2 linked regions of the Homo sapiens genome follow. The protein of the gene in region 1 purifies or fractionates together with the protein of each later gene. This does not show direct contact. Each region holds a gene or a part of one and is shown in the gene's direction. Other genes may lie near its edges.

Region 1 (4,577 bases):
CACCAAGACCTGCGAGGGCACAGGCTGGGCACCAGGTGTGAGAACAGCCCACTCCTGGGGGCATTCACCAGGGGTAGATCTCTTCAGGGTCCCTCTGCCACAACTAGTTTTGAGTTCATATGGTCCACCTGCTGGTGGGAATGTAGAAGCCTTCAGACCTATGAAGGATGATGAGTTTTTGAGAGTCCAGGCCAGGAGAGGCCAAAACACCATGACCCCAGCAAGCGAGAATAATCCTTACTCCAAGACAAACACAGACCTGCAAAAAATGAACATTCAGGGAAGGCTCCCAGGCAGGACCCAGTGGGCCCACACGCACCCATGTCAGTGCATGCAGTGCCTGGAATCTTACAGGAAGTGACCGAGCTGAACGTGACCAGCTGTGAAGATTCAGAGACTTCTGAGCCCCGATCTTGGCCACTCACGGCCCTTGGGTAGAATGTGTGGGGTGTCCACTCAGCCACTTGTTAGAGGAGGTGGCATGATCTGGGCCTCAGTGCCACGACCAACAGCGACTTCCAAGGGGAACATGGAAAGAACAGAGGAAAAAAACCAGAGTTGAGGCTGGGGAGAGTTATGGTGCCAGTGGTCTCACCCAGCACTGAGTGCAAAGTTCTCCAGCACCACTTCAGGTAGAAGCTCCTCTGGACCTTGCCTAAGAACTCCGTTCGTCCGGGAGGACGCAGGCCCACCTGCTCTAACATGAACGCGTCTGAATTCAGCGGAGGACACCCAGGAGCCCGGTTATTCTCCTGCCAGCGTCCTCCCCTGATGTGTCCCTGACCCCGTGCTCTGACGTACTCAGCCATGTACTCACTCTCCTCTCCCAGGCCCCCATACCTGAGATCACCATGGCCTGATATGGGGTAGACTACAAGCCTACCGTGCCTCAGCCATGTGCAGGGCGACCTGTCCCTGGCATCCACACCTGTGGCCCATACGTCGCCCGCATTGTGGGGCGCCGAAAACCCAACACAACTGAAACACAACTGCTGACCTTCCCCCTAAGCCGCCTCTAAACGAGGTCCCTCGGCCCCTGGTCCCAGCCGCTCTTTGAAGACTTGCCTGATGACAGGCATGTACCATGTTTTTGGCTGGGACATTTTTCTGAGCCTTGCTCCGGGCTCCGTAAAGCGGACACGGTGCCAGGGAGAGAATTTCGGGGCGGTTGCGGGCACAGGCGGGCTTCTGCGGAGGCCCTGGCGAACGCCCCCGCGCGGCGCGGTCCGATGGCCCCATGGGGCCGCCCCTCCACTGTGAGGTCACCGGGGTTCAGCAACATTCACTGCGGCTAGGACGCGTACAGGTCACTGAGGCAGAACTTCCCGATTCTCGCGCCTTCGTTCGTTTCTGCGGACCAGCGGAGACTCCTCCACACCGCCCACCGCCCAATGATCCCACTGCCGCAAACCGCCCCAAAGCCAGCGCCGAAAGCCGACGCCGGAAGCCCCGCCCCACGCAGGGCCCGCCCGAACGTTCCCGTTCCTGGGCCGCCATTGGCCAAGTCTGAACGGCCCCACGTCGAGGCTCCTTATGGGAAATGTAGTTCACGTCCCGCTTCAGGAGCTAGCGGCGCCCTCCCTTATCGCCTTGGCAACGACCCAGCCGCGCCGCGAGGAGAGCCGGGAATGGAGGTCGTGGCGTGAGGGGCGCCGAGCGAGGGGAGGCGCGGGCCACGGGAGTTCCGGGAGTTCCGGCGTTGCCCGGCAGTCCGCAGTCCTCGGCGGGAAGGCTGTCCCGGCGCCTCAGGCAGCTCTGCGTGGGCCGGGGTGACTTCCTCGCGATCCCCTGCGCGAGGTGAAGGGCAGGGACCTTTGCCGCGCCTTCCACGCGCCGTGCCCCACCGGCGAGTGGCTCCATCTTCCTCAGACTTATCGCTCGCGGACAGGCGCCGTGGGTCTCCCGGGCCTCCGTACCGTCCTCCTTCCCAGCGGCTCCGGGAAGCGGTTCCCTGTCTTCGGACGCATTTCACCCGCGCGGGGAGAGCTTCCCGGGAAGGTTCCACGGCGGCCGAGGGTTTCCGCGCCCGGGACGCGTTTCGGCTGAGGCCGTGGGTCCAGTCCACGGGTTCTGCCCGCACGGTCCAATGGCCGGGGAGGCGGAGGTGAGCAGAGGATGCCTCCGAGGAATGAGGGGGCCCACCAGGTGGGGGGCGGCGTGTGCCAGGGCAGAGTTGGAGGAGGGCAGGAGATCTGCGTATGATTCCAGGGGGAGGTCTTTGATGCACGGCTGGGGCATGCCCTTGGCAGTGGGAGCCATTGGAGATGTGCCGCAGGACTGGGACAGGATGGGGTCGTAGTTGCTGTGCCAGGCCCTCTGGAGACGCATGTGCAGAACGGCGTGTGGAAGGCCAGGCAATTGCCTATAGGGTAAACTGGGGACGTTGTGCTGGGGGTGTACAGTTTTAGGCATTCTGTTGTCCAGTTTTGTGCCTGTTGAGCAGGAGGCAAACTGGACCCTGGGACCAGGTACTTGAGACCTAAGGGAGAAGGATGAGCATAGGTTTGGTTGCGTCTGAGAGGTATGATCTCTGGGACTGGAATTGGCAGGCAGGAGATAGAGTGGAGCCTGTGCCCTTGGCCCTGCACATAGATGGCATCAGTCTGGTCACCAACCTGATGTCGCTTTGGGCTGGACACAGTTTCCAGTAGTAACACCAGAAGCATCAATAACACCAGCAGCTCTGATATTCCTCTGGGATAGGAGAAGGAAGGTATAAGGGTATGTGTAGGGAGTAAGGTGGGGAAGAGTTTAGAGCTCATAGGGAAAGATAATGTCAGGGGGAGATGTGATAGGACCCTGAGATACAGGTCAAGGGCCTGAATGTGTCCATCTGTCCATATTTTGGTTGTTTTTTTCTGCCCATCATTGACCCCAAGGCTCAGTTGGACCCATCATTGCAGGGCTTGGTGATGTTTGAGGATGTGACGGTATATTTCTCCAGGGAGGAGTGGGGGCTCCTTAATGTGACCCAGAAGGGCCTATACCGGGATGTGATGCTGGAGAACTTTGCACTCGTTAGCTCACTGGGTAAGTCTCTTACACTGTCCCCCAGCACACTGACTACCCCCTCATTTTCCCCATGCGAAGTTCTGTCCATAACGAAGCCAGACCATGGGGGCTCTTTCCTTCCCAGATTCCCTGTTGTAGGTATTGTGGGTGGTGGGACTCGGTGGTGGGACTCGGCGGTGTGCTCTTTCCCTGCCTTTCTCTGAGCAATGCTGTTGGCAGCCTCAACACCTCTTGCCCCAGGAGCTAGTGGAGCAGGTTTTGGGGGTCAGATGTTTCATAGTTTGCCCACCAAATCCCACCAAGCTCTGCCTTTTCCTGGCCATGTGACTCTCTTGAAGACATGGCTTCTCTGTGCTCTGGGTTTTGCCTCCCTACAAAAGAAATTTTACAGGGACCTCCCTGGGCCAGGCTTGAGCCATGAATTTTAATCAGAACGGTTTGGGAAATATATATATATATATATATATATATATATATATATATATGTGTATATATATATGTATATATATGTATATATATGTATATATATGTATATATATGTGTATATATGTGTATATATGTGTATATATATGTGTATATATGTGTATATATGTATATATGTGTATATATATGTATATATGTATATATATATGTATATATGTGTATATATATATGTATATATATATATGTGTGTATATATATATATATATGTATATATATATATAATTTTTTTTTTTTTTTTTTTTTTTTTTTTTTTGAGACAGAGCCTCACTCTGTTGCCCAGGCTGGAGTGCAGTGGCGCAATCTCGGCTCACCACAACCTCTGCCTCCAGGGTTCAAGCGATTCTCCTGCCTCAGTCTCCCGAGTAGCTGGGACTACAGGCTCGCGCCACCATGCCTGGCTAATTTTTGTATTTTTAGTAGAGACAGGGTTTCACTTTGTTGGCCAGGCTGGTCTTGAACTCCGGACCTCATGATCTGCCTGCCTTGGCCTCTCAAAGTGCTGGGATTACAGGCGTGAGCCACTGCGCCTGGCCACAAAGGTACTTCTTTCGTTAAATTTATTCCTAAGTACTTTATTCTTCACTGTTAAGTATGGTGTTAGCTGTTGGTTTTTTGCAGATGCCCATTTCAGGTGAGGAAGTTCCCTTCTCTTTCTAGTTCATTTAATGTGTTTATTAAGAAAAGTCATGGCCAGGTGCAGTGGCTCATGCCTGTAATTTCAGCATTTTGGGAGGGCGAGGCAGGTGGATTACCTGAGGTCAGGAGTTCAAGACCAGCGTGGTCAACATGGTGAAACCCCATCTCTACTAAAAATAGAAAACTAGCCAGGTGTGGTGGCACATGCCTGTAATCCCAGCTACTAGGGAAGCTGAGGCAGGAGAATCGCTTGAACCTGGGAGGTGGAGGTTGCAGTGAGCTGAGATCGCACCATTGCACTCCAGCCTGGGCAACAAGAGTGAAACTACGTCTCAAAAAAAAAAAAGAAAAGAAAGGTCACTAGATTTTGTCAAATGCTTTTCCAATGTCTAATGAAATGATCATGTGATTTTTGTCCTCTCTTCTGTTAATGTAGTATATTAGAA
Region 2 (3,808 bases), on another chromosome or scaffold:
TATACACATCTTACACCCCTAGACACACCCGGATATGTCCCAGAGACAGACTGACATCCTGCAGACACACTCAGACTTATCAGAAGTACACATGTAGGCGGAGACACAAACCCACACAGACGTTATACACACACACTAGCATCCACAGAAGTCTGCACATCTACCCTTGCCAGGCTGGCCCAGGCACAAGCTCACCACCCGGGTACCTCCCCTGCCTCTTCTACAAAGAGAGCAGCAGAGACTTGCACACCTACCCGAGGCTTACAGACACCCACCAAGGGGACTCCCACATGCACATCAGCAGGGACACAGCACAGTCTGGCATGCAAACATTAGGCATGTAGCATTTGCCCACAGGAGCCAGAGGCTCTCAAACCAGGGAACCTAGACACACGCACACACGTGCGCGCACGCACACACACACACACACACGCTGTGACATTTCATCCACACACAGAAACAGGAAATCCTGGTCTGTGTCTCCCTGGAGCTAATGTGTACAAACTACTACTGTTTTCAGTGGCTCACTAGACTTACTTCTACAAGGCTGCTGGGAACACTAAGGAGTGTGGCCAGGGCCTTGACTTTGTAACCTTCTGGAGCTGGGGGTCTTGGGGTCCTGGGTGGTGGGTGGATGGGGGTGGTAGGTCTTGAAGTCAGAAGAAGCTACACCGAAGTCCCCCAGGTCCCTGATGCCCAGCTCCTGGGCCCAGGGCCAGTGGGGCTGAGTGAAGTGGACCGATTGTCGAGCTGCCCACAGAAGAAACACTGCCCGGGGGCAACTCCCTTCTAATCTCCTTGGAATTTCCTGCTGGCCCTATCTCCCCCTTCTCCCCCTGTTCCCTTGCTGGGGGCTGCAGAGGGCCATGCCACTCCCATCTATAAAGGGTGCCCCATTCTGGCTGGGGAATGATGGAGGCAAGGGTAGAGGTGGCTAGAGGAGCTATGGGAGCTCAGAGGAGGGACTTGGCAGACTTCCTGGAGGAGGAGGTGTCCTTGGAGCTGGGGAGTTAGCCTCAAGTGGCTGTCTCTGTGCCCAGCTCTTAGAACAGTGCCTGCCATGTTGTAGGGGCTCAATAAATATGTGTACAATTAAGTGAAAGGCAGTAGGCAGGGCCTGGAGGTGGACCACAGGCTTGAAACGGAAAAGCTGGAGGGAGTGGTGGGAGCTGGCAGGGATGGGGAGAGTCTGGGAAGGGGCGTTGGGCTGGCTTGGGAAGGGCATTGAATGCCAAGCCAAGGGAGCACCTTGCTGGGAGTGGTCTTGTTGCAGCAAAGCTGCAGCCACCTCCTTTTATGTGTCTGCAGCCCTGGGCCTGAGGCCTGCCCTGCCGGAGAGGCCTGGGGAGGGAGGAGAGCCAGGCTGTGTGGTCTAGGGGCCAACTCCACCTCTGGAGTCAAGTCTGGAGCCAAACCTCACTGTGTCACCTCCTCCGTGTGCATGCTGTCCCTGTGCAAACCCCTCACCAAGACTCCGTCTTCCTCCTGTAAAATGGGGATGTGATCCTTTCTAGTGGGGCACTTGGGAGGCTGACAGCTCAGATGTTCTGTGCACCTAGCACCATCCTGGCACAGAGGAGGGGAGGAGGCCCCGTGTCTTGCATAGCCTCCGGGGCAGAGAGAGTCCCCTAGGAAAGGGGCGCAGCTAAGTTCAAGCAAGGGCCTGCCCAGCAGCCAAGGTTTTCACTGAGGTCATTCCCCTAGTCCCCACATGCATGACCTCATCCATGGTCACGTTCACTCCCCTTGGTGCCGGAAGGAACTTGGAGCTGGGGTGCTCCATGCCAGGCTGACCCTGGCATCACTGGAGGCCTCAGTCAGCACTGCATCTACCTGCTTTGCGGTAGTGAGGCACAGCAGGGGTCAGAGCAGGTGGAAGCAGCAGGCCAGCCCTTTGTTCTCCGAGGTCCAGGGTGGTTGGGAGAGAGCACTGTGATCTGGAGCCAAGCTGACTGGGCTGGAATCCCAGCTCTGCCTTTTCCTTTCTGAGCTTTCCCTTTCTGAGCCTCGGTCTCGTCATCTGTAGAATGGGGATGTGGATGTCCTTGCCCCGCACGTTGCCGTGAGGGTTCCGTAAGAGAAAGTGTGCAGGTGTGGGTCCCATTAGCCAGGTCTGGCTCCTGGGAAGGACCCGACAGCACTTGGCGCTTGCCTGTTATATCTGGCTCTGGTGTGACCCCCGTGACCCCAGGTTAAGCTGGGTGCTTGATGACAGGGGCTGTGCTTGGCTCTGGGTGTCCCTCTGTGGGTGTTGGCTTGGGGCATCAGTCTGAGTGTTATGCACAGAGCTGCACTGCATTTTGGGCACCCCCAAACGTATATCCCTGTCTGTGTCCCCCCTTCCCTCCCCCACGGCGTCGTGTCACTCTTCCCTGAATGGCCCAGGCTAGTGCCTCCAGCTTAGTAACTGGTGATACACATTTGCTAATGGAAGGACACCTTTGGCGGCCCCTCATTCTCAAATGGAGGTGAATCATCTCTCACTGCCTGAGCCACAAGGAAAAGCTCAGCCTCTATGAAAAAAATTCTGGGGTTCCCTAGCTAGGCTGGATCAGCTGAACATCTTTACTCTGGTTGGGGCCCAGGCCTGCTTTGGGTCTTCTGGGCTCGAGTCAGTTGCACCAGCCTCTCCCCTCCCCGCCTCTCCTTGACCCTACCCCATGGTGGAGCAGCCTGTGTGGTCCTGCCTCCCACAGCCTCACCCACCCCTGCCCCGCCCAAGCTCTGCGGGTGCTGGACACACCCCGGCCTCTGTCCCGTGCTCTTGCTCTTCCCATCCGGCCTTTGTGCTTGCAGTTCCCGGCTCCTTCCCTTGGTTTCTTCCTCCACCTTTGAGCGCTCAGCCCCAGCAGCAGCTCCCCAGGTCAGGCTCCTGTGTCAGACACCTTGGAGCTCCCTGGAGCTTCCTTTGGGGCATTTACCACGATGTTGATTAGATTATTAATGGGGTAATGATAGGTTTCATGCCATCACTGCCCCACCTTTCCCTGCATGAGGGCAGGGACCTTCCAGGGTAATTAGCTCCTTCCTTTTACAAAGGGAGAAACTAAGGCCCAGAGAGGTTAAGGGGCTTGTTAGAGGTCATGCAGCCTGTAAGTGGCAAGAGGCAAGACTGGGGTCTTGTGCTTCTCTCCAGGATGCCAGGCAGGGGGAATGGCAGGGGTGTGAAGTGCTGGGGTGTCCTGGAGCTTCAGGCTTTGTGGCCTTGGGCCACTCTCTTTGGAGCTTTGCCTTCTATCCCTAAAGACCTCAGACCCCTGCTCTGAGTTTTTGAGATTTCGCTGCAACCCAGAGGGTGTTTGGGGGATGTTTTAAACACATCCAGGTCCAGATGCTGCCTTCCTTCCTGTTCACATGGAAAGGATGGGAGGAAACTGTCAGGCGCTTCCTGACACGAATGCCCCAGAGGCCGTAGGGCCTGTGGATATCTCCCTGCTCTGCCAGGTAAGGCCTTGAATGGGAGAGTGACAACAGTGACAAGCCAGATGTGGCCTTGGTGGGCAGTGGTCTCTTACCAACAACAACCACCACACACACACACACACACACACACACACACACACACACACCCCTCCCTGATAGAGCATCTGTAGTGTCTCTTGTGCAGAACTGTACCAGACGGATCTGGGAGGCTCACTCCTGACTGGCTGCGTAGACCTTATCTTCCTGGGCCTCCGTTTGCTTGTCTGTGAAATGGGGATAAAATAATAATAGTGCCTGCCTCTAAGGATCATCACTGAGCAAGAGATAATGGCTTTTCTGTCTCAGTCCGGTGTCTGGAACGCATTAAACGCTTGTCAATGTTAGC

Evidence for each region.
Region 2: the proteins of ZNF584 (region 1) and MTCL2 purify together in Homo sapiens (affinity purification with mass spectrometry; one large-scale study listed by BioGRID and IntAct). This does not show direct contact.

Annotation. Positions count from the first base shown.
Region 1 is NC_000019.10:58,407,062-58,411,638, forward strand, and holds the start of ZNF584 (zinc finger protein 584), read left to right. Parts: upstream 1-1,587; 5' UTR 1,588-2,086; coding exon 2,087-2,104; intron 2,105-2,879; coding exon 2,880-3,030; intron 3,031-4,577. UniProt on the Homo sapiens protein: May be involved in transcriptional regulation.
Region 2 is NC_000020.11:36,853,464-36,857,271, reverse strand, and holds part of MTCL2 (microtubule cross-linking factor 2), read left to right. Parts: intron 1-3,808. UniProt on the Homo sapiens protein: Microtubule-associated factor that enables integration of the centrosomal and Golgi-associated microtubules on the Golgi membrane, supporting directional migration. Preferentially acts on the perinuclear microtubules accumulated around the Golgi.